3 linked regions of the Homo sapiens genome follow. The protein of the gene in region 1 interacts with the protein of each later gene in a biochemical or structural test. Each region holds a gene or a part of one and is shown on either strand. Other genes may lie near its edges.

The links.
Region 2: the proteins of TLN1 (region 1) and ITGB3 form a complex in vitro, tested with the Homo sapiens proteins (6 studies listed by BioGRID and IntAct, with this or other methods).
Region 3: the proteins of TLN1 (region 1) and ITGB1 form a complex in vitro, tested with the Homo sapiens proteins (3 studies listed by BioGRID and IntAct, with this or other methods).

What each region holds. Positions count from the first base shown.
Region 1 is NC_000009.12:35,704,596-35,708,342, forward strand, and holds part of TLN1 (talin-1), read right to left. Parts: coding exon 3,746-3,747; intron 3,298-3,745; coding exon 3,136-3,297; intron 2,894-3,135; coding exon 2,753-2,893; intron 2,659-2,752; coding exon 2,477-2,658; intron 2,306-2,476; coding exon 2,173-2,305; intron 1,957-2,172; coding exon 1,855-1,956; intron 1,772-1,854; coding exon 1,601-1,771; intron 1,517-1,600; coding exon 1,367-1,516; intron 1,257-1,366; coding exon 1,155-1,256; intron 1,076-1,154; coding exon 956-1,075; intron 221-955; coding exon 74-220; intron 1-73. UniProt on the Homo sapiens protein: High molecular weight cytoskeletal protein concentrated at regions of cell-matrix and cell-cell contacts. Involved in connections of major cytoskeletal structures to the plasma membrane.
Region 2 is NC_000017.11:47,251,769-47,255,515, reverse strand, and holds the start of ITGB3 (integrin beta-3 precursor), read right to left. Parts: upstream 1,690-3,747; 5' UTR 1,655-1,689; coding exon 1,576-1,654; intron 1-1,575. UniProt on the Homo sapiens protein: Integrin alpha-V/beta-3 (ITGAV:ITGB3) is a receptor for cytotactin, fibronectin, laminin, matrix metalloproteinase-2, osteopontin, osteomodulin, prothrombin, thrombospondin, vitronectin and von Willebrand factor.
Region 3 is NC_000010.11:32,909,592-32,913,338, forward strand, and holds part of ITGB1 (integrin beta-1 isoform 1A precursor), read right to left. Parts: intron 2,534-3,747; coding exon 2,295-2,533; intron 2,080-2,294; coding exon 1,857-2,079; intron 865-1,856; coding exon 632-864; intron 1-631.

The sequences.
Region 1 (3,747 bases):
GGGCTGGAGGAGGATGGCAAAGGCTACAGAGTTTGGAGGCAGTCCCACCATCTGCAGGGATGAGCACCGTCACCTTCTCAGAGACTCTCCGGGCACACTCTATGAGCTCCTTCTTGGTGTAGGCATCACTGGGGCTGCACTGCAGGGCGCCTGCCTTGGTGACCAGAGCGGCACAGCCATGGCCCAGCTCCTGTACCCGGTGTTTGATATGGGAACCTATCTGTGAGCCAAGGGAAAGACAGATGGATTTTACAAGGGGCACTCAGGGTACCTTCACTGTGCTTGGAAAAGTCACTAAGGACATAGAAAAAAACATGCATTGTAGACTAAAGAAGCAGAGAGAGAAGGTTCCCAGCACAAGGACGTTTCCGGTTGCATATCCTTTAGGCAGAAGGTCACCTCCTACACACAGAAAATAGTAGCACGCAGGCACTAAGTGGTGAGGATTGTGTTAAGCACAGTGGGGAGAAGGGGAGGAGCACTTTATGCTTGAATGTGGGAATCAGAGGGCCGTGGATTACCATGTGGCCTGTATGGGGTTATGGAGGGTTTTAAGGATGGGCATTACATGTGTCCTGCTAAGATCCAATTACTTGCTTTCTTGGAAAGCTAGAGGCTTAGGTAAGGAAGAGCTTCATGAGTTTGCAACAAGAAAGAACAAGAACATGGACTGGCAGCACAACAGAGAAGCAGCTGTAGGCCCAGATGAGGGTCGGCAGAAGCCAGAAAGGCAGGCCCGGGAAGGCTCCAGATTCTGAGCTGTTTCCTTTGTACCTGTGACTGAAGGCTTTGATCCTCTGTCCCTACCCAGAGCCTCACTAGTCTTCAGCAGAGTGGCCCTGAGGCTGTTCCCCTTTCTATGAAAGACCAGAGAGGGTGGGGGTGGGACAGCCCTAGACACTGACACATCAGGAACAAGGGGCAGGGGGCAGGGCAGAGTTGCCTCCACGTTTACCTCTTCATTTTCAGCAGCCACCGCTGCAGGCTTGGCCTCCGAGGCCAGACGGCCATAGTCACTGGTCAGCTGGTTAGCAAGAGGGCCCAGCTCCTCTGGGCTGGTGTTTGACTTGGTAACCTGGTGATAATGGAACGAGTGAAGTTATATCCAAAGTCAGCTCTCCGAGGGCAGTCCTCTGGGACTCGCCCAAACTCACCATCTCCTGAACGGTCACTGCAATGGCCTTGGCTGTCCGCACCATAGTTGTTTGGTAATCCACGAAGGAACCTTCTGGTTCACCCATTGGTCCTTCATCTAGCTGAGGGGGGAGGATAGGGAAAGGGAAAGACTGTTAGGGTCTCTGCCACTGTGCTTGGAGGCTCTGGCCCAGGGTAGCCTCAGTGTCCAAAGGCACCCCAAGACTCTAACCTGGTTGATGGCCTGGGTGATGGAGTCCACCATGCCACCCACGACCCCAGCAGCACTGGCTGCCTCGTTGAGGGTTGTTGTCAGGTCCTCTACGGCCTCGGTCATCATCTGCACAGCCTCCTCCAGGGCTTCCTGGGTGTGAGCTGCTTGCTGTGGGGAGAGGAGAGGAGCTCTGTTGTTCCTGTTTCTCCAGCCTCCTGCTAGTAACAGCTCCTCCCTCCCAACCCTCAATACCTTTGGGTTACCACCAGCCTCCTTGGCAGTGTATAGCAACTGCAGGGCAGACTCTGCCAATGTTTTAGTCTGGTCCAGGAGTGCCATCTGCTGCGGGTGGCTCAGGGTCTTGGAGGCAGCACCCACTGCAGCCAGGGTGAGCGGCTCAAAGTACTGCGCCATCTGGGACACCTGAGGCAAGGGGTTGGACTAGGGGTCAGGTCCCCTCTCTCTCACCCTACTCCCTGGGACTTCCCATGAGTCTCCATAGGTACCTTGTGTCCCAGCTGGGAGGCTTCAGCCCGGGCAGCATTGGCCAGCGGCTCAATGAGATGGGAGATCTCTTGGACTGCAGTGAGCATCTGAGTGTGCAAGGCCTGGGGAGGAAGTGGACATTAGCCCTGATGGTGACCTGCAATAGGACCCTCTGGCTACAAAGAACTGCTCTTCTGTCCATACCAAATACCCTAACCCTCCTTCGCACATCCCAGCCTTTGATGTCCCTAAGAAGCCACTCCTTGATCCCCCAGCTTCTTTGAGTCTGATATTTCTCTTCCTAGACACATCTTTCCATATAACCCTCTCCCTCTCACCTCTTGAGAGATTCCCTCACGGGGAGCAAGCTGCTGGCTGACTGCAGCGAGGGAAGCCTGGTCTAGGTCCCGTAGACAACTGTTCAGAGCTGCAATGGCCGTTTCACACTCCAGCTGCCCTGGAGCCTTGTCCCTGCAGACACATCATGGGCTCCAACACCAAGAACATCCCCTACTGCAAGGCCAGCCTATCCTTCCCCTGTATCCTCCCAACACCATCCCATCTCATTGCACTCAAGTGCCCATCCTCCATTCTGCCACAATGTATGCCCCCCAGCCACACTGGTTCCCCATCCCTCAATACCTCATGCTTGTAATTAGCTTCTTGATGGAGTCTGAGACAGTACGGGAGTGGCCGGCCAGCACCGACCAGCTCGGGGGGTCCCGGGGATTGACTGCGAGGGCCCGGGCTGTCTGGATGAGTCCCCCGGCACTCTCTAACATTGTCTTGGCAGAGATCACAATGGGCTCCATGGCAGCCCGACCCTGGGGAGAGGGGAGGCAGGAAGGTAAGTCTCAGGAGTCCCTGGAAGATGAGGTGATAAGCTGGCCCATCAGTTCCCCCTTCACATCGCCTCACCTCAGGGCTGATCTGGGCAGGAATGCTGGAGAACTCAGGGTTGGACGCAAAGGCACTCAGATTGTCCACAGCCTCCAGCAGAGGGGCTGTTGCTGCTCGGCACTGGGCACGGTTCTCCTCTGTGAAGGCCCCATCTAGCGCCTAGAAGTGACAGAGAGGCTCTCAGGACTTGGGATGCAGTCATAGGGGGTATAGGAAGTGAAGTCCAGGTCTCCTTCCTGGGACTTACAGGATTTGGGGAGAGGCTAGGTGGTCAGTCTGAATAGAAAGAGCTTGGGCTCAGGCAGAGGGGATTTGGTAGAAGGCTTCAGAGAATAACTGGGGGACTCGGGGGAGAAGATAGGACAGGTCAGGGAGAGGCTGGGAATTCAAGCAATGGGAACCTTGATGGTCTTGACAAGATTAGCTGTGCTGTTGGCCACCTCCTTGGCTGACTGTACAAACTGGCGCTTGGCAGTAGGATTGGTGGTACGGGCAGAAGCCAGGCGACAGCTGTTACACAGTGCAGAGGTGTGTTTAGCCACAATGGTGGCTGCAGAGAGCACCTGAGGAGACACATGGAAGAGCCACGATGAGGGCAGGAAGGAGGTGTACATACCCAAGGAGGAGCCATTTTAGGGTCAGGGGATGGAGAGCAATACCCTGAGGAGTCAAAACAGGAATAACAGAGTCACCTGAAAAGTCAAGATCTAGGAGACAGAGATACCCAAAGATGAACTGGGCATGGGAGAGGAAAGACATACTAATGGAGAAACCATAAGAGGGCATGTGGGAGAGTAAGCTCGAACATCTACAGAGAAGTTGTGAATTTAGCAGTAACTGATAAATGATGAGACCCATGGCAGAAAAAGACAGTTACCCAAAAAGAAGCTGTGTGTGCAAGGTCAGAGATGGGTCCCTGCCCTCTTTCCCACATGCCTCACCTCCCTCTACTCCACGGGGTCGGTCTGCCCTTTCCCAGACTCGCCTGTGGTCCCTGTTCCCTTGAGTTACCT
Region 2 (3,747 bases), on another chromosome or scaffold:
CGGGAAGCGGAGGTTGCAGTGAGCTGAAATCGCGCCACTGCACTCTAGCCTGGCGACAGCGAGAGTCCATCTCAAAACAAACAAACAAACAAAAAAAGATATCCTTGCCCTGTCCAGAATGAGTTATACGTCTATACATACACAGAAGAGTCTTGACGGGAATCACTAAAGTATTTTCGAATAGTTTATCTTTGAAGTGAATTTATCAACAAATCTTCCCTTTTTAAAATAAATCCTGGCCAGGTGCGGTGGCTCACGCCTGTATTCCCAGCACTTTGGGAGGCTGAGGTGGGCGGATCACTTGAGGCCAGGAGCTCCAGACCAGCCTGGCCAACATGGTGAAACCGCGTCTCTACTAAAAATACAAAAATTAGCCGGCCGTGGTGGCAGGCGCCTGTAATCCCAGCTACTCGGGAGGCTGAGCCAGAAGAATCGCTTAAACCCAGGAGGCAGAAGTTGCAGTGAGCCGAGAACCCACCACTGCACTCCAGCCTGGGCGACAGAGCAAGACTCCGTCTCAAAAATAAATAAATAAATAAATAAATAATAAAATAAAATAACAAATCCCTTCTGCAGGGTGTAGATTGTTTTACGAGTACTACAGTTTTTATTAAAAATACTTACATGCACTCTTGTGTCATCCTCTGAGGCAGAGGCGGCCCCAGCAGACCAGGAGCCAGGGTTTCTCTCCAGCCCAGGCAAAATCACCAAGGACTCAGAGAGGACCACGGGCAGCAACCCCGGGCTGTGCCCGCTCCATCCCTCCACCTGTGTCCCCAGTACCAAAGAGGCCGAATGCCAATTGCCCTGACGGCTGACGGTGTGCGCAGCAGCCAGAGACAAAGCCAAGGATCCCACCGGCCCAAGGGAGCCTTTTCATGGCTCCCCGAATACACTAGAGATTTTTCGGGTGCAGGGTCTGCCCTGGGAGCAGAGGCACCGCTGCCACCTGGGGACACTGGAGGAGGCAAAGCCCTCATCCTGCTCCAAAACAACCCCGCAGGAAGCCAAGTTGAAGGTAAAAAAAAGAAAGAAAGAAAGAAAAAAGGAAAAGAAAAAACCTTCTGGAGAAAGCGTAACAGGAGAAATTGGAAATGTGGGGAAACTGGCAAACCCGCGCGCGCGCACGCTCTCACCCAGGAAGCTACAGCGGCATCCCTCTGCCAAGGCGCGGGAACAACCCCCGGAAGCCCCACCTCGCCTTGGCTCCTGGGCCAGTCGTCCTTGGCCCGACCAGGACCACCCGCGACGCGCGCAGCCCCGGGTGAGCGCGGGGCTCAGAGATGCGCCCACCGCACCGTGCGCGCCGCGGCGGCCGGGAAGGCGCTCAGCCTGGCTGATGGCTTCGGCGTCTCGGAGGACCCGCTCCCAGGCACCAGGCACCTCTCAGCCCCGCCACCGCCGGGCCAGGAAGGTCCCCAGCTCCCGGCTCCGACCGCGCCAGCCAGGACACGCGCATTCCCAGCGCAGACGCGCGGGACCAGCCCTCCGCGTTTGCCGGCTCCAAGTCCGCAACTTGACCGGGGCGCAGATCCTGGGGCAGCTGCGACGCTGCCGAGCCGGAGCCTCACTCACCTCCTACGCCAACGCCCGCCAGCGCCCCCAGCGCCAGCACAGTCGCCCAGAGCGGCCGGGGCCGCGGCCGCGCTCGCATCTCGTCCGCCTCCCGCGGCGCTCCGCCCGCCCCACAGTGGGCGCCGCCGCCCGCGGCCGCTTTTCCCGCAGCGGGAGGGGAGGGGAGGGGACGCGGTGGGTGGGACGCAACGGGGCGGGCCGCGGACTCGCGCTTCCTCCCCTCCGGCTTCTCTAGATCCCCTCGCGCTTCTCTAGACCCTGCGCCTGAGAGGGAGCGGTGGGAAACTATTGCTCCTCTCTCGCCGCCTCCCTCGCCTCGCCCACGAGGACCCGCCTGCCAGCCGGGTCGTCAGCGCATCCTGGTCCCGGGGGTCCGCGACTGGGCACTTGGTGTGCTTAGAAAGGCCAGGAGCCTGTGGCCCCTCTCCGGACCCTTCCAGTCCCGCCTCCTGGGAGACCCTGTTTCGCTGGATTCTTGGGACACATTCACCCACTACCTCGAGTTTCATTCATTCACACTTTAATTCATTTGACTGGCAAACATCTGCTGAATGCCTTCTCTGAACCGGTTCAGTCCTTTATTATTCACTAATTTTTTTCTTGCCTTAGTTTGGTTTTCCGGTAGACTACCTACCTGTTGAGGGCAAGACCACATCCCAAGCTTGCGTAAGCAGTGATAGGTCCATGAAGAGCCTCGCCCTACAAACACTTGCTTGCACCTAGCCAGTGTCTGAAAACGTTTCAGAACACAGCATATTGCCTCCAAATTCACACTCACAGGCTTTGGGACTTTATCTATTTTCCTCAAAGGCCTCCTGCCTGACTCCCCCAAACTGTGGCCCCTTATCTCCCACCCCAATCTTTCTTTGAGTCCCTGGGTCTTCCCCAGACTTAAAACCTCTGGAAGCTCAGAGAGGCAAAATACTATGGCTATGAGCAAGAGGGCACCAGGAAGTAGCTGGTAGTGCAGCCTGCCTCAATGGGTAGTCCTGATGGTGATAAAAACAAGGCCAGAGGCATCAGTTCCCCTTTAGGGCTTTCAGAGTGGCCCTGGGCTTCCCTACGCAGCGTGCCCACCCTCTTCTGAGACACACAAGATGCCAGACAACTGGCCCTGACCCATCTCTCCAGCCCATCTCCCACCCTAGTCCAAGAAGATACTTGTCATTCCCCAATGCTCCATGCCTTCCTATCTGACTGATTTTCCTTCCTTTTTCCACTTGGAAAATTCCACTTATCTTTCAAAACATCTCAGATGCCATCTTTTTCCATGTAATTTTTTTCTGACAATCCTCCACCTCCTGCCCCACCCTCCCAAACACTAGGACCTTAATAGTAACACACATCAGCTGAAGCGTCACTAGCAATTTGCAAGGGGAAAAGCCAGCTCTGCAAAGGGTACTTGGGCCCTCTGACCTGGGTTTTCAGGCTGAAGCTCCATCTACCTCCCCTGGCTGCAGAGGGCCTCTAGGCCAGAAGCATTTTAACAGCAGTGTCAATGCCCTGGAGCAAAGTTCAGGTCACATGGCCTGGTTACATCTCTGCCTAAGTATTTAGTTATCTGCTCCATTCCCATATATATAAAACCAATCTCCAGCCACTTAGGTGTCTCCTTAGCCTATCCCTGCTGTCAGCAACCACTTGGGGTGGGCACTGGCCTCAGCAAGTATGCTAAGTCCACAACCCTAGCCCAAGCCCTAGCAAACATGACATAATTGTGCAAGTGAGTCCATCCTGCACTCCCAGCCCCAGGGAAGGCAAAGGAGCTAGTCCATTCACATTTAGTATAGTAATTGATGGTTGTGTTTACATTTACTATCTTGTTATTCGTTCTATCTTTTTGGCTGGTTTCTCTGTTTCTCTTTTTCTGCTTTCTTTTGGGATAATTTTTTTTTCTCTACTGGCTTCCTAGCTACACCTCGTTTGCATGTGTGTGTGTGTGTGTGTGTGTGTGTGTGTGTGTTTGCTCTAGGTATTACAATATTCCTCCTTAACTTATCATACAGTAGCCTATGTTGAATTAATATTGAACAATTCTATGTAAATTGTAAGAACCTGTAAACTAAAAATAACATTATAAGCCCCCCCACAACTGTCTGAACTAACCCTTCCTCTCAGCCAAGGGCATTCCAAAGTTAATCTGAAAAACTAGTTCAGACCATGATGTGAAGC
Region 3 (3,747 bases), on another chromosome or scaffold:
ATTCAAAACAGTATGGGAGTCTAAGAGTCTGGCAGCTTCTTAACAAAGTTAAACATATGCTTACCATATGCTCCAAAATGCCATTTTTAGTATTTACCCAAGAGAAATGAAAGCTTATGTTCACACAAAAACATGTACACTATGGTAGAAAATTCCAAAGAATCTACAAAAAGGCTACTAGGAAAACTAAGATTAAAAAAAAAAAGTTTCACCTCCGGAGAAGTTGAACAAATTCAACACTTTATATTAATATCCTTTAACAAATTATCTTTCCCAGTATTCAAGCTTAAATCAAGCTCTAATTTTAAAATCATCAATCATCAAAAAACTCTTAATATGCACTTGGTGTCAGGCATCGTTCTAAGTGTCTTATATAAATCACTAAGCGTCTTATATAAATCACTGTATTTAATCTTCAAACTCTCCACTCAGAAAACTTAAAAGTGGAACTCTCTTTTCCTTATTTCTTATACAGTTAATTAGATAATATTTTAAGCTTTGAGAGATGAAAAATTTCCCAACTTGACCTAAAATATTCCAGCTGGAGGCTGTTTCTGGATGTTAGGCCTAAATAAGCAGAAACAAGACATACAAGATATGAAAAGAATGTCTGCAATCATCGCATTTCTACCTGGATTCTCCACAACATGAACCATGACCTCGTTGTTCCCATTCACTGAATACGTAAAATAGAACCAACAGTCGTCAACATCCTTCTCCTTACAATGGGACACAGGATCAGGTTGGACCGGCTGGGGTAATTTGTCCCGACTTTCTACCTTGGTAATGTTAAAATAGGAACATTCCTGTGTGCATGTGTCTTTCTTTTCTCCTTTATTGAAGGCTCTGCACTGAACACATTCTCTGTTACAAAAAACACAAATTATGATATTTACATTTTATTATTTCAGTAAATATTTGCTTAAACATATTTCCCATGCTAAACTCTTGTGACCAAATTGAACAAACAGCTATGAAGGAAGATTTCAATAAATGAAGAGGAACATTACATTTGTGGATAGAAAAATTATGTAAAAAGATGCTAATTTCCATAATAAAATTAAAGATTTATTACAGTTCAAATTAAAACCCTATTAAGAAATAAAAGATAGTAAAATAAATTAGCCCTATCACATATTAAATATGTAACATAAAATCATAATAATTTTTTTTTTGCGATGGAGTCTTGTTCTGTCATCCAGGCAGTGCAGTGGTGTGACCTTGGCTCACTGTAACCTCTGCCTCTCGGGTTCAAGCAAGCCTCAACCTCCCAAGTAGTTGAGATTACAGGCACACACCACCATATCTGGCTAATTTTTGTATTTTTAGTAGAGATGGGGTTTCACCACATTGGCCAGACTGGTCTCAAACTCCTGACCTTAAGTGATCCACCTGTCTCGGCCTTCCAAAGTGCTGGGATTACAGGTGTGAGCCACTGTGCTCGGCCAAAATCATAATAATTTAAATAATATGTTACTAGTATAATAATCCTTCAAGAGGAAAAATCTTTAATTTGGCTTAGTTTTGTCAAAAGACAGTAATTAAGAAATTGGTAATGACAAATTAAATTAAATTAAATCTTAATTGCCAAAATAAAGGTTACCATGTAAATTCAATTATCTAGCACATTCAGATCAAAATAATAGTACAACTCTCACATGACACACTTCATACCATGTAATATATACTAGCTGTTGAGAAAGAACTTTTAAGAATTAAAGAGTAGGCTTCCACATGGCAGGCATTTTATTTACAGTATATTTTAATATTGGCACTGTTCTGGTTCTAGAAACAATACAGGCTTAGGAGAGCCAAGAGGAAGTATCAACTATTTCAAGCAATTAGGAAATACTTACTTATGCTCAGCACAGACACCAAGGCAGGTCTGACACATCTCACACGTTTGCCCTTGAAACTTCGGATCTGTACACTTACAGACACCACACTCGCAGATGCCCCGGCCATTGCAGATCTGTCCGTTGCTGGCTTCACAAGTACTAGTATCCAAAGAACAGTCACATGCACTGCCAGTGTAGTTGGGGTTGCACTCACACACACGACACTTGCAAACACCATTTCCTGCAATTAAGCATATCATTTCTCAAAATGGTAAAAATATACAATCACAGTATTGACTGAAAAGTAAAATAAGCAACAACATGTGAGAAAGTATACCTAGGGGCGAGACTGACCCTCAAGCTACCCCTTTTCTACTTATGCACCAACTAAACTCAAGATTTTTCGTGGCATTAGATGGGATCACATCTTACAACCACTTCAGGCCCTTTACTTACCTCCACAAATTAAGCCATTGGATCTATCACAGTTGAAATTATCACACTCGCAGAATTTGCCAGAATAAATTTCATTTGTATTATCCCTCTTCCTACAAACACACTGTCCGCAGACGCACTCTCCATTGTTACTGCAGATTTCTGAACTGTTTTCTTTCCTGCAGTAAGCATCCATGTCTTCACTGTTAACTTCATCTGTGCTGCATTCACAATGTCTACCAACACGCCCTTCATTGCACCTGAAGAAACATGCCAAAATTGCAATCACACAAAACAAAAATAATTTAAGAGGTTCCAAGATGGCCAAACAGGAACAGCTCTAGTCTACAGCTCCCAGCGTGAGCGACACAGAAGACAGGTGGTTTCTGCATTTCCAACTGAGGTACTGGGTTCATCTCACTGGGGCTTGCTGGACAGTAGGTGCAGCCCATGGAGTGTGAGCCGAAGCAGGGCGGGGCATCGCCTCACCCGGGAAGCACAAGGGGTCAAGGAATTCCCTTTCCTAGCCAAGGGAAGCTGTGACAGACGGTACCTGGAAAATCAGGACACTCCCACACTAATACTGCGCTTTTCCAATGCTCTTAGAAAACGGAACACCAGAAGATTATATCCCGCGCCTGGCTCAGAGGGTCCCATGCCCAGCTCAGAGGGTCCCACACCCATGGAGCCTCGCTCACTGCTAGCACAGCAGTCTGAGATTGAACTGCAAGGCAGCAGGGAGGCCGAGGGAGGGGTATCCCCCATTGCTGAGGCTTGAGTAGGTAAACAAAGCAAAAAAAAGCTAAAACTGGGTGAAGCCCATTGCAGCTCAAGGAGGCCTGCCTGCCTCTGTAGACAACACCTCTGGGGGCAGGGCATAGCTGAACAAAATCCAGCAGAAACTTCTGCAGACTTAAACATCCGTGTCTGACAGCTTTGAAGAGAGTAGTGGTTCTCCCAGCACGGAGTCTGACATCTGAGAATGGACAGACTGCCTCCTCAAGTGGGTCCCTGAGCCCGAGTAGCCTAACTGGGAGACACCTCCTAGTAGGGGCTGACTGACACCTCATACAGCCCGGTGCCCCTCTGAGACGAAGCTTCCAGAGGAAGGATCAGGCAGCAACATTTGCCATTCTGCAATATTTGCTGTTCTGCAGCCTCCGCTGGTGATACTCAGGCAAACAGGGTCTGGAGTGGACCTCCAGCAAACTCCCAACAGACCTGCAGCTGAGGGTCCTGACTGTTAGAAGGAAAACTAACAAACAGAAAGGACATCCACACCAAAACCCCATCTGTACATCACCATCATGGAAGACCAAAGGTAGATAAAACCACAAAGATGGGGAGAAACCAGAGCAGAAAAGCTGAAAATTCTAAAATTTGAGCACCTCTTCTCCTCCAAAGAAATGCACCTCCTCACCAGCAACGGAACAAAGCCGGACGGAGAATGACTTTGACAAGTTGAGAGAAGAAG